7 linked regions of the Homo sapiens genome follow. The protein of the gene in region 6 purifies or fractionates together with the protein of the main gene of each other region. This does not show direct contact. Each region holds a gene or a part of one and is shown on either strand. Other genes may lie near its edges. The genes, in order: GRWD1, NOC2L, RBM28, PDCD11, DDX24, IFI16 and GLYR1.

What was found.
Region 1: the proteins of IFI16 (region 6) and GRWD1 purify together in Homo sapiens (affinity purification with mass spectrometry, with the first as the bait; 3 studies listed by BioGRID). This does not show direct contact.
Region 2: the proteins of IFI16 (region 6) and NOC2L purify together in Homo sapiens (affinity purification with mass spectrometry; 3 studies listed by BioGRID and IntAct, with this or other methods). This does not show direct contact.
Region 3: the proteins of IFI16 (region 6) and RBM28 purify together in Homo sapiens (affinity purification with mass spectrometry; 3 studies listed by BioGRID and IntAct, with this or other methods). This does not show direct contact.
Region 4: the proteins of IFI16 (region 6) and PDCD11 purify together in Homo sapiens (affinity purification with mass spectrometry; 3 studies listed by BioGRID and IntAct, with this or other methods). This does not show direct contact.
Region 5: the proteins of IFI16 (region 6) and DDX24 purify together in Homo sapiens (affinity purification with mass spectrometry; 3 studies listed by BioGRID and IntAct, with this or other methods). This does not show direct contact.
Region 7: the proteins of IFI16 (region 6) and GLYR1 purify together in Homo sapiens (affinity purification with mass spectrometry, with the first as the bait; 3 studies listed by BioGRID). This does not show direct contact.

Annotation. Positions count from the first base shown.
Region 1 is NC_000019.10:48,448,549-48,453,110, forward strand, and holds part of GRWD1 (glutamate-rich WD repeat-containing protein 1), read left to right. Parts: intron 1-1,764; coding exon 1,765-1,978; intron 1,979-2,117; coding exon 2,118-2,260; intron 2,261-2,485; coding exon 2,486-2,683; intron 2,684-4,159; coding exon 4,160-4,477; 3' UTR 4,478-4,562. UniProt on the Homo sapiens protein: Histone binding-protein that regulates chromatin dynamics and minichromosome maintenance (MCM) loading at replication origins, possibly by promoting chromatin openness.
Region 2 is NC_000001.11:946,085-949,923, reverse strand, and holds part of NOC2L (nucleolar complex protein 2 homolog), read left to right. Parts: intron 1-1,320; coding exon 1,321-1,434; intron 1,435-1,691; coding exon 1,692-1,793; intron 1,794-3,378; coding exon 3,379-3,522; intron 3,523-3,637; coding exon 3,638-3,751; intron 3,752-3,839.
Region 3 is NC_000007.14:128,333,353-128,337,914, reverse strand, and holds part of RBM28 (RNA-binding protein 28), read left to right. Parts: intron 1-712; coding exon 713-784; intron 785-1,872; coding exon 1,873-2,068; intron 2,069-2,235; coding exon 2,236-2,372; intron 2,373-4,552; coding exon 4,553-4,562. UniProt on the Homo sapiens protein: Nucleolar component of the spliceosomal ribonucleoprotein complexes.
Region 4 is NC_000010.11:103,443,393-103,447,039, forward strand, and holds the end of PDCD11 (protein RRP5 homolog), read left to right. Parts: intron 1-522; coding exon 523-676; intron 677-1,124; coding exon 1,125-1,290; intron 1,291-1,985; coding exon 1,986-2,157; 3' UTR 2,158-2,902; downstream 2,903-3,647. UniProt on the Homo sapiens protein: Essential for the generation of mature 18S rRNA, specifically necessary for cleavages at sites A0, 1 and 2 of the 47S precursor. Directly interacts with U3 snoRNA. Involved in the biogenesis of rRNA.
Region 5 is NC_000014.9:94,060,703-94,064,202, reverse strand, and holds part of DDX24 (ATP-dependent RNA helicase DDX24), read left to right. Parts: intron 1-1,581; coding exon 1,582-2,106; intron 2,107-3,136; coding exon 3,137-3,290; intron 3,291-3,500. UniProt on the Homo sapiens protein: ATP-dependent RNA helicase that plays a role in various aspects of RNA metabolism including pre-mRNA splicing and is thereby involved in different biological processes such as cell cycle regulation or innate immunity.
Region 6 is NC_000001.11:159,019,348-159,023,909, reverse strand, and holds part of IFI16 (gamma-interferon-inducible protein 16), read right to left. Parts: intron 3,570-4,562; coding exon 3,381-3,569; intron 1-3,380.
Region 7 is NC_000016.10:4,829,790-4,834,351, reverse strand, and holds part of GLYR1 (cytokine-like nuclear factor N-PAC), read left to right. Parts: intron 1-1,439; coding exon 1,440-1,578; intron 1,579-2,130; coding exon 2,131-2,373; intron 2,374-4,562. UniProt on the Homo sapiens protein: Cytokine-like nuclear factor with chromatin gene reader activity involved in chromatin modification and regulation of gene expression. Acts as a nucleosome-destabilizing factor that is recruited to genes during transcriptional activation.

The sequences.
Region 1 (4,562 bases), on a different chromosome or scaffold from region 6:
AAGTAGGGGAAGAGGGTTAGGGTGCTCCAGGAGTGGGGTGCTATTTTTAAACAGTGTGGTTAGGAAAGTATTCTGTCATAAAATGCCATTTGCATAGATACTCACAGGTAGTGGGGCAGTGAACCCTGTAAAAGAATTTGCAGGCAAGGAAAAACACAAGTTCAAAGGCCCTGGGGTGAGCTTGGCATGTTTGAAGAGTTTCAAGTGAAGCGGGAGTGTCCAGTCTGTCTGGAGCAGAATGAACAAAAGGGAGAATGACACAATTTGGGGAGCGGGCACAGAGAAGACATTGTTCAGAGCCTTGTCGGCCACTGTAAGGACTCCAGCTTTTAATTGGGAGACGTTGGAGGGTTTCAGGCAGAGGAAAGACAGGGTCTGACTTCTGTTTTAAAGTGGTCCCTCTGGCTGCTGTCCTTAAATATCAATTGCAGAGAGGTAAGGGTCGGAGGAAAGAATCCTGTGGGGAGACTTACGGTATTCAGGGGAAGGATGACATCAGTAGTAGTGTGACAGCAATAGACATCATGAGAAGGGGGTTGGAAGTGAGCTTTTTTTTTTAGATGAGACAGAGTCTCGCTTTTGTCGCCCAGGCCGGAGCGCAATGGTGCGATCTCGGCTCACTGCAACCTCTGACTCCTGGGTTCAAGCGATTCTCCTGCCTCAGCCTCCTAAGTAGCTGGGATTACAGCCACCCACCAGCACGCCCGACTAATTTTTGCATTTTTAGTAGAGGCGGGGTTTCATCATGTTGGCCAGGGTGGTCTCGCTCCTGACCTCAGGCAGTCTGCCCTCCTCGGCCTCCCAAAGTGCTGGGATTACAGGTGCGAGCCACCGCGCCTGGCCCTGGAAGTGAGCATTTTTACTGTAGTCAGCATAGGTGCTGGGCATGAGGACCAAGAATGAGTTCTGAATTTTGGGGCCTGAGGTGGAGAGAGAGCAGTTGCAGGTGGCAATTAGGAGCTTGGCTTTGGTTGTATCAAGTTTGAATGGTCAGGCTGGCACAGTGGCTGATGCCTGTAATCCCAGCACTTTGGAAAGCTGATGCAGAAGGATCGCTTGAGACCAGGAGTTCCAGACCAGCCTGGGCAATAAAGTGAGACCCTGTCTCTACAAAAAAATTTTAAAAGCCAGATGTGATGGTGCTTACCCATAGTCCCAACTACTTGGGAGGCTGAGGTGAGAGGATCACTTGAGCCCAGGAGGTTGAGGCTGCAGTGAGCCATTATGGCATCACTGCACTCCGTCCTGGGCAACAGAGCGGGACCCTGTCTCAAAAACAAAAAAGTTTGAACGGTCAATGCAGTAAGAGTCTGGAGCCCAGGGGAGAGGTCAGGGCTAGGGGTATTGGAAACCTCGTGGCTGGACTGGGTCTCCTAGTGAACAAACACAGAGGCAAGGAGATCCGAGGACTGAGTCTTGTGGCCTTCTAGCATTTAGAGGGTTACCGAGACCAGGAGCCTGAACACCCTCCCAAGGGCTGGTGGGAATTGCAGCCTCAACTCCCAGGCATCCTGGGGCTCTATCCTCCCACCTCAGCTCCCCCACCCACTCCCACCCCCTGTGGAGAGCTGTCCCAGTTACCATGCTGGTTTTTGCAGGTTGTGATTTTCTTCCCACAGAGGTTTCAAGGAGCTGTAGTCCCAGGCCTGGGAGATCTGAGGAAGCGCACTTCTGGTTCTCTGGGATATGGGGAGCGTGGGGTCAGTGCCTTGATCCTCCTCTCCCCTCGCTTCACATCACCCTTCCCCCACCGCTCTTCTGCAGGTGTCATGGCTGGGTGAAGAGCCTGTGGCTGGGGTGTGGTCAGAGAAGGGCCAGGTGGAGGTGTTTGCGCTGCGGCGGCTTCTGCAGGTGGTGGAGGAGCCCCAGGCCCTGGCAGCCTTCCTCCGGGATGAGCAGGCCCAAATGAAGCCCATCTTCTCCTTCGCTGGACACATGGGCGAGGGCTTTGCCCTTGACTGGTCCCCCCGGGTGACCGGTGAGTCCCTGGGGTGTTCAGGAGTCCCGGGAGGTCGGGGGAGCAGGGTCTGCAACAAGGGGCCGGGCGCTTAGACTCCAAGGAGGGGAGCGAGCTGCGGCCAGGTGGGGCGAGGTCATTTCCTGACTCCCTTCCCCAGGTCGCCTGCTGACCGGTGACTGTCAAAAGAACATCCACCTCTGGACACCTACGGACGGCGGCTCCTGGCACGTGGACCAGCGGCCATTCGTGGGCCACACACGCTCTGTGGAGGACCTGCAGTGGTCACCGACTGAGAACACGGTGAGGGAGGGTGGGGTTCTGGTCGTTTAGTTCTGATGGATTCTAGGCCAGGGACCTAGAATCCTAGGTCTGAGGGAAAAGAGGGCTGGGAGCCTGACGGAGGTTTAGTTTCCAGGCCAAGTCATAGTAAGGGGAACAGTGAAAGAGAGAGTAGCCCACCGCTGGCGCTTGGGCTTCACTGCGGGCTGGGGGGCATTGGGACCACTCAGACTCCGCCTCCCCCAGGTGTTTGCCTCCTGCTCAGCTGACGCCTCCATCCGCATCTGGGACATCCGGGCAGCCCCCAGCAAGGCCTGCATGCTCACCACAGCCACCGCCCATGATGGGGACGTCAATGTCATCAGCTGGAGCCGCCGGGAGCCCTTCCTGCTCAGTGGCGGGGATGATGGGGCCCTCAAGATCTGGGACCTTCGGCAGTTCAAGGTATTTTCCCAGCCGGACACCTGGGGGCTAGAGAAGCTTGCTCCCAGCAGCCCCTGGGATTTGTAGGATTTTTCCTCCTTGAATAGTTTTACACAACCAGAGCTGGAGAGCCCTTAGAACTAGACTCCTGCCTCTTCAGGGTACAGAGGAGGAAACTGAGGCTCAGCAAGAGGAAGGGTGGCGGGTCTCCACTCTTGGGGTCACTCACTCTACCAGGGGAACAGCTGACAAGAGATGGAAGGGGCTGGGGCAGCAGAGACTAGGACTCTCATCTGCCTGTGGGCAGAAGTACAGGTGTCTGTACGGCCAGTGCTGAGAGCTTCAGAGAGTTGTAGATTTCTAGATGCAACTGAGAATCGGGGCCCAGCCTGCTCGTTGTAGGAGAAGACTGAGGCACAGAAAGGACAGGAGCCGCTGTGACATGACAGCCAAGCTAGAGGTTGACATTGTGGAGCTGGGAGGGTCCCTGTGCAGGAGAAGTTGCAGCGTCCGGCATCCCTCTGGACAAAGCCGCAGCTTTGTGTGGCTCTGCCTTCCCGGGCTGCCATGATGTCATCCTTTTTCTCCTCCAGTTTGATCGTTTCTATAGCGTCAGCCCTGGGGAGGAGGCTGGAGACGGATTCCAGCCTCCCAGGCCCACCAGGTCACACAGGGCCCAGCTTGTTGACCATTGGAACTTCAGAGCAGCCTCTCCTAATGAGAGAGACGCCAATTGAGCGGGGCCTTTGCTGTAGTGAAAGTGCTGTCATTCTTAGTCTTTCTTTGGGTCGGCTTCCGGGGATTGTGTTTCTGCCTCCTTTGAGGCCTTTGTAGAATCTGCTGGGAGAGCTCTGGGAGAGCCATGCCCTCCTTTTTTTCTTTTTTTTTTTTTTTTTCTTTTTTTTTGCGATGGAGTTTTGCTCTTGTTTCCCAGGCTGGAGTGCAGTGGCGCAATCTCGGCTCACTGCAACCTCCCGCTCCTGGGTTCAAGCGATTCTCCTGCCTCAGCCTCCTGAGTAACTGGGATTACAGGCATGTGACACCAGCCCGGCTAATTTTGTATTTTTAGTAGAGATGGGGTTTCACCATGTTGTTCAGGCTGGTCTCCAACTCCTGACCTCGGGTGATCCACCCGCCTTGGCCTCCCAAGGTGCTGAGATTACAGTCGTGAGCCACCGCACCCAGCCCATGCCCTCCTTTTACAAGGAAGAAAACAGGCAGGCAGAGGGAAGAGCAGGGGCGGGGGTTTTGCTACCTGAGCTGGGAGGGGCTTCTTTGCAGGTGAATCACAGTTCCCAGCAACCCCTGGGCTGGTCAGCCTTCTTAGCAGCCAGAATTACCCTGTGTCCCTTTCCTGGACTCTGGGCTTGTGAGGGCTTAAGGGGTGGGGCCCTGGCTGAACCCTGAGGCTGGAGAAGGGTTGGGGCTTCTGCCTGGGTCCTCCCCAGAGTCAGGCTGAGGCATTCAGAGCCCGTTCCTCCCATCCTCTCCCTCTAGTCTGGTTCCCCAGTGGCCACCTTCAAGCAGCACGTGGCCCCCGTGACCTCCGTCGAGTGGCACCCCCAGGACAGCGGGGTCTTTGCAGCCTCGGGTGCAGACCACCAGATCACACAGTGGGACCTGGCAGTGGAGCGGGACCCTGAGGCGGGCGACGTGGAGGCCGACCCCGGACTGGCCGACCTCCCGCAGCAGCTGCTGTTCGTGCACCAGGGCGAGACCGAGCTGAAGGAGCTGCACTGGCACCCGCAGTGCCCAGGGCTCCTGGTCAGCACGGCGCTGTCAGGCTTCACCATCTTCCGCACCATCAGCGTCTGAGGCGTCCCACTGGCTCTGATCTTGCTTCCTGCTTGGAAACTGAAGTCGAATTGGGCTCCCCTGGAAGGGGTTCATTCAGGTCTGT
Region 2 (3,839 bases), about 160 Mb from region 6:
AGGCCCAGAGTCGTGTCACAGCTGTCCTTGGGGCTGGGTCCCCAGGTTGCTGGGTCCAGAAGGTATGGAAGCCCCAGGCACGTTCTGATTCCCCTTCCACTGAGGCAGGGATGCTGAACATCTTTAGGAAGCCATGTTCACTCCCATGGCAGCCAGCAGTGGTCTCTGATTGCCCAGCCCTTGGCCTGGCCCCTGTGTCTGTGGGCCTCCAGCTCTGCTGCCCAGCTCCAGGCATGCTTTGTGTCTGTTTCCCTTGTCCAATCTCCTTGGCTACGTGCTTTCTTACTCTCTTGCAGTGTCTGTTTCTTCACTTGTGCACTGCCCTGGTTCACTGCAGCCGCACCCTGTAGGCCCCTCTCACGCAGGGATGCAGGCCTCTCCTCTCCGGAAAAAGCAAACCCTAAAAGCTAAAACAAAGCCCTCAGCTGTAGGCCGTGCCTGCCCTTCCCCGGTGCCTGGACAGGAAGCCAGTCGCCTGCCCATACTTTTGGCCCAGGCTAGAGAAGGGCAGTGTCCTCCCAGAGGTTCATCAGTACCAGGGCGTTTTCCCATCTGGACCTGAGCTCAGCTGTCTGGCAGCCACCCCTGCTGAGTGGGGTGTCTTGCTGGGGCCTCCACCCTTGGGCCCCCCATAATCTGCTTCTGTCCTCTGGTGCCCCAGCATGTACCCTGGATCTCTCTGGTTCACAGCCTGAGGGCTCCTAGTGGTTGGGGAGGGGTCACAAGACTGAGAGGCCAGGCTGACTCTTTCTCTGCTCCTCCTGGCATGTCCTACGGAGGTGCATGGCCTGTGGCTTCTGTGGAGGGTGTGGGAGGGGCCCCCCAGGCCTCCCGTGACCTCCATCTGTCCCGTCCTGTGTCTGGCACTCTTTGCTGTTGCTGCTGCGTCTTCTGGTTGCTCGGGACGGAGCCCCATGTGGCATTGCTGTGCTGAGGGCCAGGATGGGCCTCAGTGCCATGTTGTCAGGAATGGGGGCTGTCCTGGTACTCTGTGTGGCAGGGACCTCTAGGTCTCCAGACGTGGGTCCTTAGTGCTTCCCAGGATTTTGGGAGAGGGCCCGTGTTCCTGATCCTTCCCTGCTGATCAGAGCCCCACTCGGGGACACGCCAGGCTGTGTGGGGCCATGGGGCTGGGACCGTGCCTAGCTGCTTATCTCTTGTTTCGGGTTGGGTCTCCTCGTGCTGAAGCCTGAGGACCAGGGTGACCAGGGTGCAGCCAGGTGCAGGGCCAAAGGGACCAGGGGGACCAGGGTGCAGCCAGGGTGAAGCCAGGGTGACCAGGCATGGGGCCGAGAGAGCCTGACACGGCCCTTGGGGCAGATGTTCCAGCAGGTCGACTTCAACAGGAAGCCAGGGCGCATGAGCTCCAAGCCCATCAACTTCTCCGTGATCCTGAAGCTGTCCAATGTCAACCTGCAGGAGAAGGCGTACCGGGTGAGGCTGGCCTCCTGGGGAGGGGCCTGGGCAGTTCCCAGGGTGGGGTTGGGGGTGCTGAGGTGGATGGGAGGGGGCTGGCATCCTCCAAGTTCAAGCATGGACCTTCATGGTCTCCCAGGGCTGGGGCCCAGGAGCCCCTTCCTTGCAGTCCGTGCCCTGGAGATGGCGCTGCCCTGACAGCCTGAGGGGAAGGGGCCTGAGTGCCCAGCCCCAGCCTCTCCCTGATGCACTCGGCCCTCTCTCCTGCTCTTCAGGACGGCCTGGTGGAGCAGCTGTACGACCTCACCCTGGAGTACCTGCACAGCCAGGCACACTGCATCGGCTTCCCGGAGCTGGTGCTGCCTGTGGTCCTGCAGGTGTGTGTCCTGCCCACACCGGCTCGTGGCCGACTCAGACTGTCTTATAACGGGCTTGGCTGCCCCAGGCTGGTAGGAGGTGCCCTTGTCCCGGGTACCTGGGACTGGGGTGGAACCTGACTGCTGGCAACGCGCCCCGTGAGGCCCCCTTGGAGGGGCTGATGAGGGGTTCTAAGCCATTCAGGAGGTTTGGGGGCAGGCCTGGGCAGTGGGCTGAGGACCCTGGGAGCACAACAGCCTCCTCCCCAGGTGGGAACCACAAGGCTGATCTTTGCTTCGGGGTTGGGACTGAGCATGCCGACCCTGGCTCAGGCTGGTACGCTGATCGCACACTTCCCCAGGCCATCCCGGGTGTGGGGAGTGGGTGGAGTGGCTTCTCAGGTGGCAGGAAGGCCTGGCCTGCCCCGCCAAATACCCCACATCAGCCTCATAGGAAGGCCCAGCCTGCCCCGCTAAATACCCCACGTCAGCCTCATCTTAGGCAGGAGTGGGGTGGAGGAGGGGGTTCTCCTTATCCTCAGAAGGTCCTTCTGGGCCCCCACGGGAGGTCTGTTTGCTCTCAGCCGTGATGTTTCCAGCCTCAGGGAGGCCTGTGCCTAGTGGAAGGGGTGGGGGCCCTGCTGTCTGGCCCTGGTGGCTGGAATCAGATGTGCCGACTATAGGTCTGTGCAGTGTGGGGAGGAGGGATCTGCTCACATGAGCCACAATTGGTCAGAGGCTTATCCAGATAGAGGTGTGTGCATGTGTGTGTACTCACACACGGCCACACATGTCACATGCACAGAGCCGGGACCCCCTTTCTGGGGGGCACTCACAGCAGGGGCCACAGCCTCTGTTCCTCCCATGTCCTCTTGGGTGGTGATACCTGGCATTGGGGCATCTCTGCTTCTGGACTCAAGGGCCCAGGGTCGGGGTCTGGGGTAGGGGTCAGAAAATGTTTTTGGTGAGGGGCCAAATGGTAAACGTGGCTTCCTACGGATGTTCAGCTGCACAGGCAACTGCAGAACCATGCAATGCACACGTGTGGCTGCACGTCAGCGAGACTGTATTTTATTAGTAGTAGTAGTATTGTTTGAGATGGAGTCTCGCTGTGTTGCCCAGGCTGGAGTGCAATGGTGCGATCTCGGCTCACTGCAATCTCCATCTCCTGGGCTCAAGCGATTCTCCAGCCTCAGCCTCCCAAGGAGCTGGGTTTACAGGCGCCCACCACCACACCCAGCTAATTTTGGTATTTTAGTAGAGACGGGGTTTTGCCACGTTGGCCAGGCTGGTCTTGAACTCCTGACCTCAGGTGATCCACCCGCCTCAGCCTCCCAAAGTGCTGGGATTACAGGCGAGAGCCACCACGCCTGGCATAAAACTTTATTTCCAGAGGTGAGTAGTGGGCAGGGTTGGCCCAGAGGGTGGGCTGATTCTGCCTCTGCCATCCCAGCTGCAACAGCTATGCACTTGAGCCCTGAGATGGGATCCATGTCCCCTCCTGGGGTATCCCCGTGGCCACCACGCGTGGTTTTGCACAGGACCTGGGCCAGCTGTGCACATGGAGCGGTCCTGGGCTTCAGTGGCTGACCCCTCCCTTCCGCAGCTGAAGTCGTTCCTCCGGGAGTGCAAGGTGGCCAACTACTGCCGGCAGGTGCAGCAGCTGCTTGGGAAGGTTCAGGAGAACTCGGCATACATCTGCAGCCGCCGCCAGAGGGTTTCCTTCGGCGTCTCTGAGCAGCAGGCAGTGGTTAGTGGGCCCTGGGGGTAGTGCCACCTGAGGGCACCTGCCAGGGTATAGCCCCAGCTACATGTGGGGGTTTGCCCAGGGTGAGGCATGACCCTGAACTCCCCCAACCCCCCAGGAAGCCTGGGAGAAGCTGACCCGGGAAGAGGGGACACCCCTGACCTTGTACTACAGCCACTGGCGCAAGCTGCGTGACCGGGAGATCCAGCTGGAGATCAGTGGCAAAGAGCGGGTGCGGCTCGGCGAGGGGACCTGGGGGTGTGTTGTGACTTCCTGGGTTTCAGATCTAGCGCACTATGACTTGAGACCAGGGCGAGGGT
Region 3 (4,562 bases), on a different chromosome or scaffold from region 6:
GACTGTGATTTATATATTGACTTATCAAGTACTGTGCCTAAAGAAGTTATTGCCGGCCAGGTGCGGTGGCTCACACCTGTAATCCTAGCACTTTGGGAGGCCGAGGAGGCAGGTGGATCACCTGAGGTCAGGAGTTCAAGACCAGCCTGGTCAACATGGCGAAACCCCGTCTCTACTGAAAATACAAAAATTAGCCAGGTGTGGTGGTGCATGCTTGTAATCCCAGCTACTCAAGAGGCTGAGGCAGGAGAATCGCTTGAACCTGGAGGCGGAGGTTGCAGTGAACTGAGATGGCACCACTGCACTCCAGCCTGGGCGACAGAGCGAGACTGTGTCTCAAAAAAAAAAAAAAGAAGTTATTGCCGTAGAGATGTCCTAGCTTCCAGGTAGGGTGCAGATGATTCCAGAATGCCTGTTTTGATTCCTGATAGTCTAACTGGAAACATAGTTCTAATTCTTTATTTTTTTACTCCATCTTATCCCAGGTGTGGTGGCTATGTAGAAAGGCAAAATTTCTGTTCATTGATAAAAAGGTTAAGGGTTAAAAGGAGTAGGCAGTGACTAGGAGCTTTATTTTAAGACCAGCATTCCCTGAATTGGCAGTTTCTTTGTCTCCACTGGTTCCATTATTGTCTGTGATGACTAGGGGTCATTTACAGAGGTAGGGTTTTTAAAAGGAGAGCCTTTCTGATGCCACTTTTCTGCTTGACAGGCCGGACAGTGGCTGTGGATTGGGCCGTGGCAAAGGATAAATATAAAGATACACAGTCTGTTTCTGCTATAGGTAAGATGTGGTAGTGTTGGGTGAGTAGGGGCGTTGTATAACCTGGGTGAGAGTATTGAAACAACTCCTGTGTTCATGATAAAAGTGTAAGAAAAAGGCTGGGTGCAGTGGCTCTTGCCTGTAATTCCAGCACTTTGGGTGGATTGCTTGCAGTCAGGAGTTTGAGACCAGCCTGGCCAACATGCAAAACCCCATCTCTACTAAAAATACAAAAATTAGCTGGGCTTGGTGGTGGGCGCCTGTCATCCCACCTGCTTGGGAGGCTGAGGCAGGTTCTTGAACCTGGGAGGCAGAGGTTGCAGTGAGCCGAGATCACCCCACTGCACTCCAGCCTGGGCAACAAAACGAGACTTCGTCTCAAAAAAAAAGTGTAAGAGAACCTGCTTATCAGAGTAAGACTATTGTGGAAGATTAACCAAAAGAATGAGACTGGGCTTTCAGGGAAAACTCTGAATTCCTGCTGGCTCAGAAGTGAGTCCAGGTCTGTTTGTCAATTCATATTGTACCATTTGGTGCTCTGGTCCCAAAACCTAGGCTCTTTTGAGTCTAAGCCCCTTCCTGGGAGTGGCTGTGAGTGAGCCTGAGTTCACTGTCCCCTTTACTTGCTGTTGTTTCCAGGCTGTGCATAATAGGAGTGATGGAACATTAAGAATAGAGAAACTTAAAACTTGAGGTTTATTTAGAAAACAATTGGCTGGTAAGCCACCAGGGTCTCAGAGAATAGAACGCACTGAGATTAAAGTTCATGGCTTGGCTTTGCCCCCTAGTGAGCATTTTGCTGGCTATGATGTACGAATGGTAGACTGCTTGGAGAGGCTCAGTTGCCACTTCTTTCAGTCTGGGCCAGATGAACCTTCAGACTGATGAATGGGACAAACTCTAAAGGAATCTGGGTGTTGAGAGTTTTGTTTATTTCTGTTTTTGCTTTTTCTTTTCTTTATACTTTCTCCTGTTATATGCAGTAAGAAAAATATACGAAATTCTGTAAAACCGATGAAACCAAGAACTTGGAGTATTGGTTACTTTTGTTAAAATAACATTGTTTTGGATATTAAATGAATTCCTCCTTTCTTTACCTCCCTCCATAGGTGAGGAAAAGAGCCATGAATCTAAACATCAGGAATCAGTTAAAAAGAAGGGCAGAGAGGAAGAGGATATGGAAGAGGAAGAAAACGATGATGATGACGATGATGATGATGAAGAAGATGGGGTTTTTGATGATGAAGATGAAGAGGAAGAGAATATAGAATCAAAGGTGACCAAGCCTGTGCAAATTCAGAAGAGGTAAGCAGCTCATCCTGTTCTGAGACAGCAGAGGAAGATTCAAGATTGTCTCCGAGAGGAAAAATTCTCCTTTTTCTGCCTGCATCATTGCAGAATTGACATGTGTAATGAAATTGAATAGGCCCTCTGTCAGCCCACCTCCTTAGTTCTGATCTGTGCCATTGCAGAGCAGTCAAGAGACCAGCCCCTGCAAAAAGCAGTGATCATTCTGAGGAGGACAGTGACCTAGAGGAAAGCGATAGTATTGATGATGGAGAGGAACTGGCTCAGAGTGATACCAGCACTGAGGAGCAAGAGGATAAAGGTTTGTTTGGATTTTCATAAATGTCTTTAGACTTTAAAAAAGTTACTGAAGTTACGGAAATGAGCATCAGTTCTGCTTAGATCTCTTTTTAAATAGGACTCTAAGGTGTTCTATCAAATTTATGTTTAAATGCTGAAAAGGAAACCTTTATACTCCTTTCTTCCAAAGGTTTTTTTGTTGTTTCCTTTTTGTTTGTTTTGTTTTTTAAGTGAGTTTTGGAGTGGTGTTTGAGGGTTAAGATTCTTAGGGAATTGAAAACCTAGCTTAATGCTGAGGTTCTACCTCTCTCTGGATTGTCCAACTTGATAGAATAACCAGGTAAACAGCATCTTATACAGATAATATAGATGAAACAGATGATATAACCATCTCAACATCAAGCTAGATTTTAAACAACTCCTTGGAGTTGAGATGGGGATAAAGAACTGTTTAGTCAGTTTGGACTGACATAACAAAATACCATAAACTGGGTGGCTTAAACAGCAGAAACTTATTTTCTCACAGCTCTAGAGGCTAGAAGTCCCAGGTGCCAGCTGATTCATTTTGGGTGCAGCTCTCTTCCTAGCTTGCAGACTGCTGCCTTCTCGCTATGTGCTTGCATGGCCTTTTCTTTGTGGCTTGACGAGGGGAGAGAGAGAACAAGTAACAGTGAACTCTGGTCTCTCTTTTCTTATAAGCACAGCAATCCTATCAGATTAGGGCCCAACCTTAAGACCTCATTTAGCTAGCCTCAGTTACCTCCCTAAAGTCTCTGTCTCCAAATACAATTATATTTGGGGTTAGGGCTTCAATGTATGAATTTTGGGGGAACACAGTGCGTTCCATAACAAGGACCTCTTTGAACATGTTGTAAAACTTTAGCCAATCCTTATTGCTACCTTTATTGAGAATAAATTCAACTTGTTTATTGAGGAAGGCAGGTCATTACAGAATGAGAAATGGCTAATAACTGGTTCTTTGATTTGTCTGGGTGGAGATTTTTATTTCAGCTGTTTTTATTCTGATTCCATTTCAGTAAGTCTGACATGTTGGTTTGACCATATAAGAAATCTGAGGAAATAAGCTTTTTCTGTGAGGAGAGAATGGTATACACCTTAGAATCAAAGAAGCTTCTACACTGAAGGGACTCTGAGATCCTGTATTCTACAACCCACAGTCAGCTGTCTCATGCCATTCTTTCACCTAAAAAACTTATAGGACAGATAAATGATAATGATAAAAAGTTAAAACACAACACAGAAGAGTGTAATACACAAAGTAGAAGTTTCTCACCAATCCTAACAATTCCCTGAAGTAATCACTGTTGTTTCTTGTGCATCCTTCCAGATATTTTCTTTGTATGTATAAGCTTATATGTCTGTTCTTGAAAACAAACAGTGAGTCTCCCTTATACCCAGATCCTCAGCTTCTTAGGGAACTTCCCCAGAGACAACCAAGGTTATTTGTTTCTTGTGTATCTATAGATATTTTAATACATTTATAAGCAAAATGCACACATATACACACACATATACACATTCAAAATGTAGTGTATTTTATAATTTGTGTGTGATTGTATGTGTATGTTTTTTCCTCAAAGTTTCCTATGTCCTATACAGTATTTCCAGAAAGTTTACACTGTCATAGTAGTATATGGAAATGTCTTTTTCCCATAACCTTACCACATTGGATTCCATCAGTCTTTTTGATTTTGCAATCTGTTGGTGAAAAATAGTATCTCATTTCTTGTGCTATGTTTTCTTTAATTAAGAGTGAGTTTGAACATCTTTTCATATACTTAGCATGTCCTTTGTCTATTTTTATTTTTATTTATTTATTTTTTTTGAGACTTTGTTTCGCTCTTGTCACCGTGGCTGGAGTGCAATGGCTCAATCTTGGCTCACTGCAACCTCCACCTCCCAGGTTCAAGGGATTCTCCTGCCTCAGCCTCCTGAGTAGCTGGGACTATAGGTGCCTGCTACCACGCCTGGCTAATTTTTGTATTTTTAGTAGAGACAGGGTTTTGCCATGTTGGCCAGGCTGGTCTCGAACTCCTGACCTCAGGTGATCAGCCCGCCTGGGCTTTTCAAAGTGGCATGAGCCACTGCGCCAGGCTTATCTTTATGTACTTAAGAAGTTAGCTCTTTGTCATGTGGCTTACACTAATCTCTTTCAGTTTGTTGTTTTTCTTTTTACCTTAGCTGTGCAAGT
Region 4 (3,647 bases), on a different chromosome or scaffold from region 6:
AGCCCCTGGGGTGCTGGGTCCAGTCCTGCTGTGAGCTTGCCACCCAACATCGGGGCCCCAACTTCCCTATCTTCCAAGTAAAAGAAGTCATTTCCCTCACCTCTTCTTCAGGCCTGTGGGGTCAAGGTGAGGGAAGGAGTGGCTTTGGAAGTGAAGGGGCAGTGGACCCCTGGTGTGTCTGCCTTGGGCTGCTGGCAGGGCATCACAGACAGAAGGGGACGTCCCGGCCCAGCATCCGCTCTGGCGTCTCTCCTACTCCCCCTTGTCATTCTCATGTTCTAGGCTAGGACCGCCCTCCCATGGGTGCGGATCAGCAGGGAATCCCCTCCGTCGTGTTGTGCCTGTTCACGGTGCCCTTCTGTGAGCCTCCCTCCCGCTCCTCTCAGGTCTCTAGCATTAGGCCCTGAGAGTGATTTGGTGTCTGGGAGCCCAGGTCTAGCTTCTTGTGAGTGTTGCTGCTTGTCTGTCTTGTCCCCTCTGTAGTATCACACTCTCCTCAGCGTGCCTCGTCTTTTCCCACAGGAAGCTGGTGAACTCTACAACCGGATGCTGAAGCGTTTCCGGCAGGAGAAAGCTGTGTGGATCAAATACGGCGCCTTCCTTCTGCGGAGGAGCCAGGCTGCAGCCAGTCACCGCGTGCTGCAGCGAGCCCTGGAGTGCCTGCCTAGCAAGGAGCGTGAGTGCTCATTCCCAGCTCCTGAGCCCATGAGCACTCCAGGATCGGGGAGTAGGAACTGGCTGTGGCATTGCTTCTTCTAAGTCAGGAGAGCCTTGTGAGGGCTTTCCTCTTGCTGCCTGTTGATTCTCTGCCCCTCAGCATAACAGTGCATGTTAAATTTCAAATGTCAGGCTCCAAAAGATGGAGGAACAAAACGCAGTTAGTACTAGTTCTGTTGCCCCTGGGATCCCCCACCTCTTCTGTGCCCAGAGAGTGGTGTGTCTGCAGTGCCCATCTGTGTATTTGGCCCCAAACCCACCCCTTTTGGGTCTTTGTCCCTCTTGTCACAACCTGAGTCTTGGGACCCAAGAGCAGGGAGTCAGGTGCACGCTGACCCTGCGGAACACTGTGTTGTGGTGAGGGGGCTGTCTGCTTGTTGGGTCTCTGAGCAGTCCTCTCCCTGCAGATGTGGATGTCATTGCCAAGTTTGCCCAGCTTGAGTTTCAGCTGGGGGATGCAGAGCGGGCCAAAGCCATTTTTGAGAACACGCTGAGCACCTACCCAAAGCGCACAGATGTCTGGTCGGTCTATATCGACATGACCATCAAGCACGGCAGCCAGAAGGACGTCCGGTGAGTGGGGCAGCTGGCCAAGGCCGAGTTCCTCAGGAGAGGGCGTGGTAGGCACTGGTCCCACAGCAGCTCTCAGCATCCCAGTTCTCTTACTTGATCTAGAAAACCAGCTAGATGTGATGCCCCAGGCCCAGTGACATTCACTTCAACTCCTCTTTCTGCCTCAAAGGCCAGCATCTGGTCTGTGTCTGAAACCATTGGTAGGAGGTAGCCTTGTCAAGAGACTCGAGTTTCTCTCATAATTAACACTGTTCCTGACTCTCATTGTAGACTACTTTCACAGGCATTCTCTTGCTTTTGACCCCAGCGTCTCCACAAGACAGGGAGGGTTTAGAGATGAGTAGACTGAGGTCCAAAAAGAACAGGTGCCTCACCCAAGCCCTTCACTATGTATGTTTCTCACTGTTGTGTCCCCCATCCCAGTAGCTTTGTCTTGATCACTGTGTGGCTTTAGGCAGGGAAGTCCCTTACCATCTCTGGGTGTCCATCTGCTCATCTGGAAGATGAGGGTGGTAGTGCCTCTCCCCAAGGCATCATGGGAGTTCATCATGGATTAATAAAGATAATGGTAGAAGTGGGAGTCCTGGATGGGAGAGGGTCCTGGTTCCAGGGCTGAGAGCAAGTGGGTGAGTGCTAGGCAGGAAGCACGTGACCTGGGACTGACAGGCAAATGCCACTCTGCTTTTCCTCAACAGGGACATCTTTGAGCGGGTCATTCATCTGAGCTTGGCCCCCAAGAGAATGAAGTTCTTCTTCAAGCGCTACCTGGACTACGAGAAGCAGCATGGCACTGAGAAGGATGTGCAGGCAGTCAAGGCCAAGGCCCTGGAGTATGTGGAGGCCAAGAGCTCAGTGCTAGAGGACTAGTGGCAGGCTGGCTCTGTGGGACACTGTCAACAATGGGCCAGCCCGGCCCCGCCTCGAGTGCCTGGGCACTCGGAAAACTGTTACCTCAGGACTCTATTTAAATGCTGCTTTTTCTGCAGCACGCTTGGGGAAATCCTGTCAGGATGAAAAGGAAGTTGAGATTTTTTAAATCCCTCTTCGCTTGCTTTATTTTCAGTACCAACTTGTTATCTTTTTCCTTATCTGAGGCTACCTGGGGATTGTGGGCAGCAGGCCCCTGGACTCCCAGAAATGCTGAGGGTCCCTCTTCCAGGGGAGTTCCCTGGGGAGCAAGAGTAGAGGGGCTATTCCCGAGGGTCCTGTGGTCAGGGTCCTGCTTTGTCCCTGGCAGGCTGTCAGTCCAGCTGGAGGGGGTCAGTAGGCTCCAGGGAGTGGGCCCTCCCCTCCGATCTTGGAGTCTCTGGGTGTTCCTTCAGCCTCAGCCTCACTGGTACCTTCTGCCCTTTAGGGGAGGCTATGAGTCTGGGACAGGAGGACAAATTCAGAGCCCAGAGGGGGAAATGGAGAAACCTGGGCTGCTGAGGAAAGCCACGGGTGTTGGCGTGAACTGATGATGTCTCATCCCACGCCCACTATGGCCACATTACCTAACCTCTCCATATCTGGGCTATTCAAGGTCTTGGAGGCCAGCACAGACCCAGCTAGTTGTTGAAGCCAGTTCTTTTTTGTCTTGGTCATGAGGGAATTAAACGTTTTCTCTGGCAGAGCTTTAAGTGTCCTGAGAGCTTTTCCATGGGAAATGACTGAGTCATATGCCAGGAAGCCGGACAGGGCCAAGGGAGAGCATCCAAAGGTTCTAGAGGTGGGGCGGGTGGCGGGCAGGGATGGGAGGAAGGAGAAGCTGGGGCTGGCCTGCTTCTTGGACATGAGCACTAGGTTACGAGAGCTAGTTCTGGCCTGCCCACTGAGCGCAGAATCTTCTGACTCGTGAAATTTCAGACTGTTTCCTTCTGAGAAAGGCCAGGCTTCATCTCTTCCCCACACCAAATCAGATAATAGAACCCAACTGCAAAGAGATCATCAGCCCCAGAGCCTTCCCCTGTGTTGAACCCCTGGTACTCACTGCACCCTCCCTGCCACCCCTGTGGGCCATTTTAGTCCTGTCCCCTTCCCTAACACGGCATAGGATTTGGGCCTGGCCCTATGACCACCAGCCTGCTGTGGCATGCCCATTCAATCACACAGACACCAGGCTAGTCCTTTTAGTAAGAAAAACTTTATCAAAAATTTAAATATATAAAATAAGGCCAGAGGCTGCACTGGAGGCCACTTCCCAGTGGTGCACTGCTGCGCTGGGTGTCCCTATGCAGCTAGATACATGTTAACTGCATAGAGTACCATAAAGGAGCCCACTGGTGAGCTTCACTGTCACCTGGCCCTGCTGGCTGGGGCTTCCATTGTCTACTGGGTCTGTCCACACCCCAGATTGCCTTGTGGTCCTTTCCCCTGGC
Region 5 (3,500 bases), on a different chromosome or scaffold from region 6:
ATTTTATCTTTTTTGTTGTCTTATTAGCTATAATTCTTAACGTCTTTTTAGTGATTGCTTTGGGGTTTATAGTATATATCTTTTATTATAGTTTACCCTCAAGTAATTTACTACTTCGCATACAATGTAAGAACCTTACAAGAGTATTTTCCATTTCTCCCCTCCTTTGTGCTTTTTGTTGTATACTTCATATGTGTTAGAGATTCTAGAATACATTTTTATTATATTTGCTTTAAACAATTATTTTTAAAGATGTTTAAATAAGAAAAATAAGGGGTTTTGTTTTTTTGTTTGTTTTTAGAGACAGTATCTCCCTCTGTCACCCATGCTGGAGTGCAGTGGCACGATCATGGCTCACTGCAGCCTCAAACTCCCATGCTCAAGCAATCCTCCTGCCTCAGCCTCCCAAGTTTCGAAGACTACAGGAGTGTGCCACCATGCCTGGCAAATTTTTTTAAAGATGGGAGTCTCACTATGTTGCCCAGGCTGGTCTTGATCCTCCCGCCTAGACCTCCCCAAGTGTTGGGATTACAGGCATGAGCCACCATGCCTGGCCATAAAAAGAAGTTTTTAAATATTTACCTACGTAGTTACTGTTTCGGTTGCTCTTTATTTCTTTGGGTACATCCAGATTTTCATTTTATGTTATCTTTGCTATTGCATGAAAGACTAATATTTCTGATAGCTTACATTTGCTGCTGGTGAATTATTTCAGCTTTTATATGCCTAAAGTCTTTATTTCACATTTTGTTTTGAGTGGGTGTAGGGTTATAGATTGTCAGGGTTTTATTTTTAGGCATTCAAATAAAAAATATTGCTACACTGTCTTCTGGCTTTTCATTGTTTCTGATAAGTCTGCTGTTCTTCTTATCAAAAGTTTCATGTGTCTGTTTTTGCTCTCTTTTTTCCTTATAGTATCTTATTTTTGTGTGTGTGGTTATTTTTTACTGAGAGCTGCTTATTTCCTTTGAAAATTGTGAAAATTTTTGGAGATGTATGGTAATGGTTTCTCCCTTGAGAAAGCATTTATTGGCTTCTGCCTAGGGCATTATCACTTTGGAACTTCTTTAAATTCTCAGCCTGAGATGTTTTGTTTTGACCACCCAGATGATTTGGACTCTGTGTACATTCAAAGGCCAGTTTGAAAATGTTCAGGCATAGACAAAAGTTTTATATTTACATTTTCTGAAAACTTAAGAAAATTTTCTTTTACTCCTTTCTCACCAAAGAAAAGTCTTGGGAAAGTATTGTATGGATTACTGTTTCCTGCTCCTCACAGAAACAACACATACACCCAAAACTTGCCCTTTCTCTCTTTATTGTTTCATTTCTTGGACATTTGTAATTCGTTACTGGTGACCTAAGACCTCAGTGCTAGCCTGCCATACTTTTCCTCGGGTTCTAATTTACATGTGCCTTCTGGTTCCTTCTGGGGAAATCTGTGTAGAGTGGAGGAGCTTTGGGTCGGTCAGGGTGGCACTTGGCTACCTTATTCTATGCAAAAGAATGAATTCCAGACTAAAGTATGTTCATCTGTTGATTCACACTGTTTTTACTTTGTTTTGTTTTTTTACTTTTAAGGAAGTGGGAAAACTCTTGCCTTTGCCATCCCAATGATTCATGCGGTGTTGCAGTGGCAGAAGAGGAATGCTGCCCCTCCTCCAAGTAACACCGAAGCACCACCTGGAGAGACCAGAACTGAGGCCGGAGCTGAGACTAGATCACCAGGCAAGGCTGAAGCTGAGTCTGATGCATTGCCTGACGATACTGTAATTGAGAGTGAAGCACTGCCCAGTGATATTGCAGCCGAGGCCAGAGCCAAGACTGGAGGCACTGTCTCAGACCAGGCGTTGCTCTTTGGTGACGATGATGCTGGTGAAGGGCCTTCTTCCCTGATCAGGGAGAAACCTGTTCCCAAACAGAATGAGAATGAGGAGGAAAATCTTGATAAAGAGCAGACTGGAAATCTAAAACAGGAGTTGGATGACAAAAGCGCCACCTGTAAGGCATATCCAAAGCGTCCTCTGCTTGGACTGGTTCTGACTCCCACTCGAGAGCTGGCCGTCCAGGTCAAACAGCACATTGATGCTGTGGCCAGGTTTACAGGTGAGGTTTAGTTCCATTTAATAAATATTTTCTAGGTAAATCCCAAATGCTCGTTGGTAAAGATGAATGAGCTGTGGCTCCTGCCCTCTAGGGTAAGCCACTCTCATCTATAAGCCAGACAATTAAGCCCTACAGAAAATTGATATAGTGACATTTTTTCAGTTCCCTCAAGGATAATACATGGTTGGTGCCATTGTGGATGCATAGGAAATTTATTGGATACAGTAGATGCTCAGGGCAGGGATTAGCAAACTGTCTGGTTTTATAAATAAAGTTTTGCCGGAACACACCCACACCCATTTGGTTTTATATTGTCTGTGGTTGGTTTTGTACTACAAAGGTGAAGTTGAGTAGAGTTAATAGTTGTGACAGAGACCATCTGGCCTATGAGGTCAGTAATGTTCACTAGTGACCCTTTCAGAAAAAGTTGGCTGATCCCTGCTCTAAGCTATTAGGATTTAATTCTCTCAGGGAATTCACTCTGGGAAGGGCTTCACTCTGGGAATCTTAATTTTATAATGAAAGCAGCAATTAATTACCAAGTTGTTACTATTGCTAAGCCCTTTACCCACATGATACTATGAGAATTTCTGCACCAGAGACGAAAACAACAGGGCATTAGTGGACCTTTCAGAATAATTCTAACTGAGGGAATGGAAGGGCTTCCTAGGAGAGGTGTAGCACAGCTGCAGGTCATATTCCTCCCAGCATTATGGTGCCCCAGTGCTCCGTTTTCCCAGAGCTTTGGAGGTAAGCATACCTGGGTTCAAATTCAGCCCCTTTGGTGTGGTTGGAGGGGAGGGAGTAGAAAAGAAATGAGGCTGAAGAAGTAGAGCTCAGATCACAGAAGACTTGGTAAGCCCTCTAGGAGTGGCGTCAACAGTCTGGCCAGGCCTGCTCTTTTAGCAATGCTCTAGGGCATTACACTGTGCTGATGTCTGTCTCTGCTAATCTGGGGTGCCTGTGTCAGCCATGTAAGAAAATGATCACCCAGATTGAATAAGTGTCCCTTATGTTTTCTGTCCCATAGGAATTAAAACTGCTATTTTGGTTGGTGGAATGTCCACGCAGAAACAGCAGAGGATGCTGAACCGTCGTCCTGAGATTGTGGTTGCTACTCCAGGCCGGCTGTGGGAATTAATTAAAGAAAAGCATTATCATTTGAGGAACCTTCGGCAGCTCAGGTAATAGATGGCACTTCTCTTTTCCCCCTCACTGCCTTTTCTGAAATGAGCCTTAGGTGACATGGTGTGGGCAATGCCTTCTTCTCATCGCAGAATGCTATGGTGTGGTATCATCCAGACCCTGGCCTTTAGAAAGCCAAGAGTGCATGAGGGAGATTAGTTGAGGGCCTGATGGTGGTGGTGGTAGTGGGGTGTGTACGTGTGTGTGTG
Region 6 (4,562 bases):
CGAGGGCAAGCCTGCTTCCACCTCTGAATGCCAAGTTTACTTTGTGCCTCTCACGGCAAGAGTAAAATTTGGTGTTCCTTAGAAGCATAAAAGGATGCAAGGAGCTCAAGCCTTTCCAAGAGCTTGCCCATCAGTCCACGCTTAGCCATCCCCAAGCAAATGTATGGTGATATTGTAGAGGACTTTTACTAGACACTCTGCCAAATAATTGGAGCAGTACTTATGCTCTAATCCAACTGGCTATCCCCTGCACCCTGGCATTTCACCAACCTAAAAAAAAAAAGGTAAAAACAAGACACTGCAGGCCAAAGGAAACTCCTCATGAGTCCTTTAAACGTTAGGTTTACATAAATGCTATTAAGGTCCTATGAGAAGTGCCAAATAAGTTTAAAGCACAAAATCAAATAGCTGCAGAGTTTAAATCCATGTTGCTCTGTTAAGTAACTATAAATTTTTTTTAAGTAGACTAAATAAACTATATCTACTATAATCAGCAACGATTCATAAATTACACTGAGGACGCCATCAAAGAGAAAGCTAAGCAATTAGGACCTACCAGCCAGATGGTCTAGAAAAATAAAATAGCTTTAAATATAATATTAGCAAAAAAAGAAGTTTGTGTCATAATTAAAACTCAATGTTATACCTTTATTCCTAATACTGCCCCTGATAGAACTATAACAAAAGTGCTACAAGGATTAACAGCCCTATCCGATAAACTTGCCAACAATTCTAAAATAAATAACTCTTTTTCTAAAATAATAAAACATTGGTTCAGCGGATAAAAAAAAAATTTAACTTCAATTCTCACCTCGTTTGCTCTTGTTATTGGTGTACTTATTCTTGTAGGCTGTTATATTATTCCCTGCCTTTGAAATTTTATACAAAAACTTATCTCTGCCACTCTTGCAGAGTTAACTCCTAATTCTCCTCCACCCTATTCTGAAAAATTACTTCTCTTAAAAGGACAAAAAAAAATTAAGTCAAAACATATTAAACAAGTTTAAAGAAGAATTATGAAATGAGGGGAAATTGTAAAAAGTAGAGGTTCCTCTTCAAAAACTTTCCTCCCCATCTAATTAGAAATAAATAGTAACTTCTCTTAAAAGCAAAATTTATTCAAAGACCTGTACAAACATTCTTAAATATCTGCTAGCCATAATAAAAAATCAATATACTTTATGTTCTTAGCTCCCACAATTTAGCCTAAATATTTGCCCTAACATGCTTATACTGATCCAAGCAAGCATTAGGTCATAGCCTGTTCCTCTTCCTTATTTAAAGGTGTTTTTACCTTTCTCAATATTCCACAAGTTACTTCCTCCTTCCTTTGTTCTCCTATGCCTTTGCCTCTTTTAAAAAGTTCTAAGTGCTAGCCAGTCGGGACAAATACAGAAGGTGAGGTCCCGTCCCAGCCAATGGAAACCGAACGCAGCAGGAGGGTGGCCGCGTCAGATTATAAATGAGCCTGTCTCCTTTGTTCCGTATACTCTTGTGGCAAAACTGCTGGCGAGTGTACCCTTTCTACAAAAAGTATAAAAATGGCCTTGCTGAAAAAATTAAATTGATATTCAAATGCTATTTATTTATGGCACCAGGGAACAAGCATTGCACATACAAATAATCCCATCAAAAAGTGGGCTAAGGGCCGGGCACGGTGGCTCACGCCTGTAATCCCAGCACTTTGGGAGGCCGAGGCGGGCGGATCACGAGGTCAGGAAATCGAGACCAACCTGGCTAACACGGTGAAACCCCGTCTCTACTAAAAATACAAAAAATTTAGCCGGGGGCGGTGGCGGGCGCCTGTAGTCCCAGCTACTCTGGAGGCTGAGGCAGGAGAATGGCGTGAACCCGGGAGGCGGAGCTTGCAGTAAGCCGAGATAGCGCCACTGCACTCCCGCCTGGGCAAAAGAGCAAGACTCTGTCTCAAAAAAAAAAAAAAAAAAAAAAAAAAAAAAAAAAAAAAAAAAGGGCTAAGGGCTAAGGACATGAATAGACAATTCTCAAAAGAAGATATGTAAATGGCCAACAAGCATAAGGAAAAACGCTCAACATCACTAATGATCAGGGAAATGCAAATCAAAACCACAAAATGATGCCACATTACTCGTGCAAGAATGGCCATAATCAAAAAATTTTAAAAAACAGACGCTGGCATCGATGTGGTGAAAAGGAACACTTCTACACCGCTGGTGGGAATGTAAACTAGTAGAACTACTATAGTAAACAGTGTATAGATTCCTTAAAGAACTAAAAAGCAGATCTACCATTTGATCCAGCAATCCCACTACTGGGTATCTACCCAGAGGAAAAGAAGTCAGTATACAAAAAAAGATCATTGCACATGCATGTTTACAGCAGCACAATTCACAACTGCAAAAATATGGAACCAGCCCAGATGCCCATCAGTAAACAAATGGATAAAGAAATGGGGTATGTATACACCGTGGAATACTATTACTCATCCATAAAAAGGAACAAAATAACGGCATTCACAGCAACCCGGATGGAATTGGAGACCATTATTCTAAGTGAAGTAACTCAGGAGAGGAAAACCAAACATTGTATGTTCTCACTCATAAGTGGGAGGTAAGCTATGAGGACACAAAGGCATAAGAATGATACAATGGACTTTGGGGACTCAGGGGAAAGAGTGGGAGGGGGGTGAGGGATAAAATGCTACATACACACTGGGTACAGTGTACGCTGCTTGGACGATGGGTGCATCAAAAAGTCAGAAATCACCACTAAAGAACTTATTCCTATAACGAAGCACCACCTGTTTCCCAAAAACCTACTGAAATAAAAAATAATTTACAACATTCAAAATGGCAACAGCGTAAAATCATGTACTGTAAGGAAACTTAACACGTGAATATTTGAATTCAAATTAACAAATTGGAGAGCTTCCTCTGTATAAAACTTTGTCAGTGGGACATAATTTTGATCACTGCAAATAATTTTAAGTTTCAAATTAGGTATTTTTATGGACTAAATACACACATATGTGTATTGTAATGTTACAAACTAGAAAGTATCACACACACACACACACACACACACGACGTTTTCTAATTCACAAATGGAGAACATGTAATTTTAAATCCCAACCCTACAATCACTTAAAAGTTTACATAAAATTCAGAGTTCAATTTTTTTGATAAAGTTCAGATTTCTTTCTTTTTAAAATTGTATCCTATCACATCATTCCATCCAGAAAAAAAAAATTAAAAAAAGTAAATGTGAATACAAGGAGAATATCTGTTTTCTCATGCCTCCCGCTGAACTCTGTAAAAAAAACCTACAAACTTGTTTTTGCCAAAACTTAAAGCAAATCATTTCCACTTTGGAAAACTAATATTTGCCTATTTAATTCTTACCTGGATAAAACTATGCATTTCTGAAATCAGTTTTGACATCTGGTTCTTTTTTCTAAGTCGAAAGCAGAAAAGTTGGAGCTTATCTCCTTCTTCACAGGGGATATTGTGACATTGTCCTGTCCCCACTACATCCATTTTTCCTCTATCATCCTGAATTTCGTAGATTGTGGTCTTCTGATTTACTGTTTTCTGTAACAGAAAATTAATATTCTGTTCCTGAGAATGTAATTAATAACAACCACATATAGGCTGAAGTCCCTTCTAAGAGAGTTAAACAAGATGCACAACAGCAACTCCTAGTACAGATATGCACATATCTTAGGCCACATCTTTGCAGAAAGCCGTCCCTCAATATCCTTTTTGTTTAAGTCTTTCATATCTGAGATATTTCTATGACAGTTCTAGAACAATGAGTTTTCTTCCAAATTTCTACTGCTTTCACCTACAGGGCAGCTTTGCTTCCCAAAGCACCTTGATACAGAGGAAGCTGAAATCTCTGATAGCCTTTCTGGGTCTCTGGCCCCATGCAAAAAGAATGGATATCTGCTACAACTATTTATTCAGTGACTTATGAGGAATCTGTAAGAAAAAGCAAGCTTCTGGTAACTCTCTAATTACTTTTTCTACTTTCTGCATTTACTGAGTCTCTTCCAATATTTGTACCCCCTCCTGAAACCAAGTCCTTGAGCTCAAACATTCCAGCTTTTTGCTCATTACTCATCATCCTAGAACTGGATTTGTAAGAATCATCTCTTTAAGAGTGTGTATATAGGCCATGCGCAATGGCTCATGCCTGTAATCCCAGCACTTTGGGAGGCCGAGGTGGGCAGATCACGAGGTCAGGAGACCAAGACCATCCTGGCTAACATAGTGAAACCCCGTCTCTACTAAAAATACAAAAAATTTAGCCAGGCGTGATGGCACACGCCTGTAGTCCCAGCTACTTGGGAAGCTGAGGCAGGAGAATCGCCTGAACCCAGGAGGCGAAGGTTGCAGTGAGCCGAGATCGCGCCACTGCGCTCCAACCTGGGCGACAGAGACTCCGTCTCAAAAAAAAAAAAAAGACTGTGTACAGAAAGTAACGCAGGTTAATGAGTTGTTCTAGGAAACAAATATAATGGGTAATGAAGTATTGATCAGATAAATTGCTTGAATCAATAGCAGAGGATAGATGCTTTTTTG
Region 7 (4,562 bases), on a different chromosome or scaffold from region 6:
TCCAGCCTGGGCAACAAGAGTGAAACTCCGTCTCAAAAAAAAAAAAAAAAAAAAAAGGAATTTGCCTAACTCCTCTAGTTGGAGCTGTGCCAGGGAGACCAGCTTCTGTATCTCCATTCATCATCTCACTTAGCCATGGTGGCATGCCTGATAGTGGTTCGCTGCCTGACATCTGCAGGCCGATGATCCCAGGTCTGTGTTTTTGCACAGACCCCATTATCACAACTACCAGCAGCACACTCAAAGTCCAGGTAGCTGGTGGAGGGTTAGTAACATTATTTTTATGTGCAAAGGTTAACACTTGCTGTTAGTGAATATTCTCTAGCTTTCTATGAAGAAAACAACCTGAAGCTTGTGAGATAGCTGGGTTTCTGTATCCTTAACCTGACCTACTTTTTCTGAAGGTTATGCTGTGAAACCTGTATCACAGGCTAAAACATGTAAACTAACTGATACCTTGTAAAGCCTATAAAATTATTTTGTGCTTGGATTCTATAAGCTGCATGCCATTCAGGGAAGCCATAGAAAGCCAGCTGCAGCAGATTTGTTCAGGTTAGTGTGACAGATCAGAAACCCCAGAATTGACAGCTGACTACTTTCACTTTCATGTGTTACACATTGATGGTTGAAATTAAAAATTACATATCGGAGGTGTATGTTCTTCTACCTTTAATCTCAAGCATCTTGTTTCTATTTTTTTTTTTTTTTGAGACATCATAAAACAGCATGCCATCTTGTTTTTAAATGCCTCCTTTTGTAACTGCTGCCCTTATTCCAAACCATGTGTTCCGTGTTTTGTGTGGTTTAGTAGCCATGGTTACCATCATTTATGAACAAATATAGGCTCAGTGGCTGTGAATATCCATAGGAACCACAAATTTTAGAAGATGTTGCATTTCTTCAGCTCTGTAACATCCCTGACTCTCTGTGGATCAACAGATCATAAATCTGGTTCCCATTGTTGACAGGCAGCAGGCATTTTCCTGCATAGTAATGCTGCTATCATCTATCACATTTCCAGGTACCCTGATTCCCAGGGATCTGTGTGTGGCCATTTGTGCTGCCTGGTGAGAATGGGAAAGGGTCTCCAGATTTCTTTCTGCCCTGAGCAAGTGGCAGCGTATATGTGGTTGGGCATTGGAGGCTGATAGACGATTGTGGAAATAAATAATCTGCAACACAGTGCTTTCACTGGAGGAACTTGATTTGTGGTTGCTGCAGTGGTGGTGATGGTTGTTCTGCTTGACTTGTTTCAAGAAAATATACTTTAGACATAAGACTCTGAGATGGTTGATAGCATGTTTTGAAAGAAATGGCAAGGCCTATTGCAAAGTCCAGTTAAACCAAATGGATATTTACACCGTGCCATAGTGAGGTTGTTGATACTTTAGGGCATATGCTATATGGTTCACACCCTTTTTGTGTTTGTTTTCTGCTAGTGCCTGGATCAAAGTGGAACAGCTGAAGCCATATCATGCTCATAAAGAGGAAATGATAAAAATTAACAAGGGTAAACGATTCCAGCAAGCGGTAGATGCTGTCGAAGAGTTCCTCAGGAGAGCCAAAGGGAAAGACCAGGTGAGAGACACAATGTTCACTTTCTACCAATGCCAGACTGGTGATTTTTGCATAGCAACTAACAGATTAAATGTCACCCAAACGCAAACCTTTGTTCTTCTGAAATGCTACTGGAGAAAGCTACTTCAGTTCTAAGGTGTCAGCGTTTTGCTTATCAGTTTGAAACTCCATGCAGCTAACCTTTCTGGAGTAGGTTGTTGCTTTTAGGAAAATTGCTTGGACCCAGGAGAAATATCTCAGCATTTGAGTCTAGCACAGGCCATTTCTTCCTTTCATAGCACACAGATTAGGAGCATAGCCTCTGAAATACATATACTGCCTAGATTTAAATCCTTTCTTCTAGTTTTGGGACATAGGGAAAGTGACTTTTGATATATATATTTTTTAAATCTGCTTCTCCCAATGTCTGGGACGACAGCAGAATCTATTTCTAGGGTCATTGTGAGGAGACCACACAGAGTGCCTGTAGCAGCACATGGCACCTGTAAATGATGGTGGCGATGGCGGCAGCAGCTGTGGTGGTAGTTATCATTATTATTATTAAACTTTCAGACGTCATCCCACAATTCTTCTGATGACAAGAATCGACGTAATTCCAGTGAGGAGAGAAGTAGGCCAAACTCAGGTGATGAGAAGCGCAAACTTAGCCTGTCTGAAGGGAAGGTGAAGAAGAACATGGGAGAAGGAAAGAAGAGGGTGTCTTCAGGCTCTTCAGAGAGAGGCTCCAAATCCCCTCTGAAAAGAGCCCAAGAGCAAAGTCCCCGGAAGCGGGGTCGGCCCCCAAAGGATGAGAAGGTTTGTTTTCTCTCTGCAGCTTCCGGGATTAGTGATGTCCTTTTAGTACAAGGTAGAGTTAAGCTCTACAGTATGCTTATGTAGTATGCTTATCTATACTCTGCTCATGGAGTGGGAGCAGAATTCTGTGCTCAAGAATCCTGCAGGGCAGGTGCGGTGGCTCATGCTTTATCCCAGCAACTCAGGAGGCTGAGTCAGGAAGATGGCTTGAGCCTTGGAGCTCAAAGTTGCATTGAGCCGATTGCACCACTGCATTCTAGCCTGGGTGATGGAGTGAGACCCCGAATCTTATTTAAAAAATTAAAAAATAAAGAATCCCATAGACCAGGTGAGAGACACGGCCTGGATGCAGGTGTAAAGTAGGAGCGCGAGGCAGGAGAGCAGTCCACTTGAGCCGGTGCACAAGGGCTGGCCCTGGGAGGGGCTTAGCAAGAAAGAAGGGTAGGCATTCCAAAGATGGAGGGCACAGCCCGTGTGAGGCTCGGTGCTGGTGGAGATACTCTCGAACAGGGAGAGGATAGTGAGGAAAGCCGAGAAAAAGGAAGCTTGTCCCTGGATCGTGGAGGGCCTGAAGGTCTACTGAAGCAGCGTGGTACTAAAGCGTCTTGGAGTCAGTGGGGGCCCGGGAAGGTGACTGAGCCAGTGGCAGTGTGTGCCTCCCGTGTGTGCACCAGTAGTCACCGAGTGCAGAGGGGAAAGTCTCAGAGCCAATTAGGAGGTAAGTCTAGGCGTGCATTCATAAGGGGGTAATTGCAAATGTTGCAAGCAAAGAGGTGAGAGGCACTTCAGAGGAAGAGTTCTTAAGATTCCATAATTGGTTATATAGAGGATGAATGAGAAAAAGGAAAAGAGGATTTCCATCTTCATTCCTGGGAAAGTGGTCATCACTTTCTTAAAAGTAGAGGACTGGGGATGTAGAGGTGGCTTGTGGAGAAAGAGTACCAGTTCTGTTTGGAATGTCAAGAACTTGAGGCAAGGCCTAGACAGCCTGGGAGCTTGGTGTGACCTCAGGACTAGAAATGTAGATTTGGGAGGTGAATTTGTAAAAGGGTAGTTGAGTCCGGGCAGTGGAATGGGTTTGTTTCAGGAAGAGAGGGAGAAGAGGGAAGCGCGGAGGCCTGCATTGCCACAAGAATGCCGTGCTTGGGGCAGGAAGGAGCAGGAGGAGCTAGCAAGATGAGATAAAGCAGTGAGAGTGCCTCTCTCGCCTTCTTGCTGACAAGATTTGGGGCCGGTCTTACAAGGCCACAGAGAAGAATTTCAAAGTGAAGGGGACTGTGTCAGGAACGCGGTAGGATTGTCAACAGCAGGATAAAGAGAACAGAAGCCAGATGGCTGGCAGCAACAGTTGGGTGACGAGGCCATGATGGAACATTAGACCTTGGATCAAGGCTCAAAAATTCAGACACCAGCGAGCCCAGGCAGGTAATGGAAGCAACTGTAGCTGACTGGACCTAAGAAGCAGTGGCACGGGTGCCAGGCACCCCAGCTGACCTGCCTTGGTGCTCAGAGCAGCAGGGCTGGCCATGGTCAGGGAGTCTGGGGAGGTCATGCTCTGTCCACAGGGTTCTAGCCAGCTTCTGCCAAATTGTCTGTTTTTTCTCAAGAGAAGCTGGGAAGGCCAGTTGTGGTGTCTCATACCTGCAATCATAGCACTTTGGGAGGCTGAGGCAGGAAGATCACATGAGCCCAGGAGTTCAAGACCAGGCTGAGAAGCATAGTAAGAGCCTTTCCCTTAAAAAAAAAAAAAAAAAAAAGACAAAGTTGGCCAGGTGCAGTGGCTTATGCCTGTAATCCCAGCATTTTCGGAGGCTGAGGTGAGCAGATTGCTTGAGCTTAGGAGTTGAAGACTAGCTCTACAAAAACTAAAAAATTGGCCAGGCATGGTAGCTCACACCTGTAATCCTAGCACTTTGGGAGGCCAGTGCAGGAGGATCCCCTGAGCCCAGGAGTTCTAGACCAGCCTGGGCAACATAGGGAAACCCCATCTCTATTAAAATTTTTTTTGCTGGGTGCAGTGGCTCACACCTGTAATCCCAGCACTTTGGGAGGCCGAGGCAGGTGGTTCACCTCAGGTCGGGAGTTCGAGACCAGCCTGACCAACATGGAGAAACCCCGTCTCTACTAAAAATACAAAAATTACCCGAGTGTGGTGGCACGCTCCTGTAATTCCAACTACTCGGGAGGAT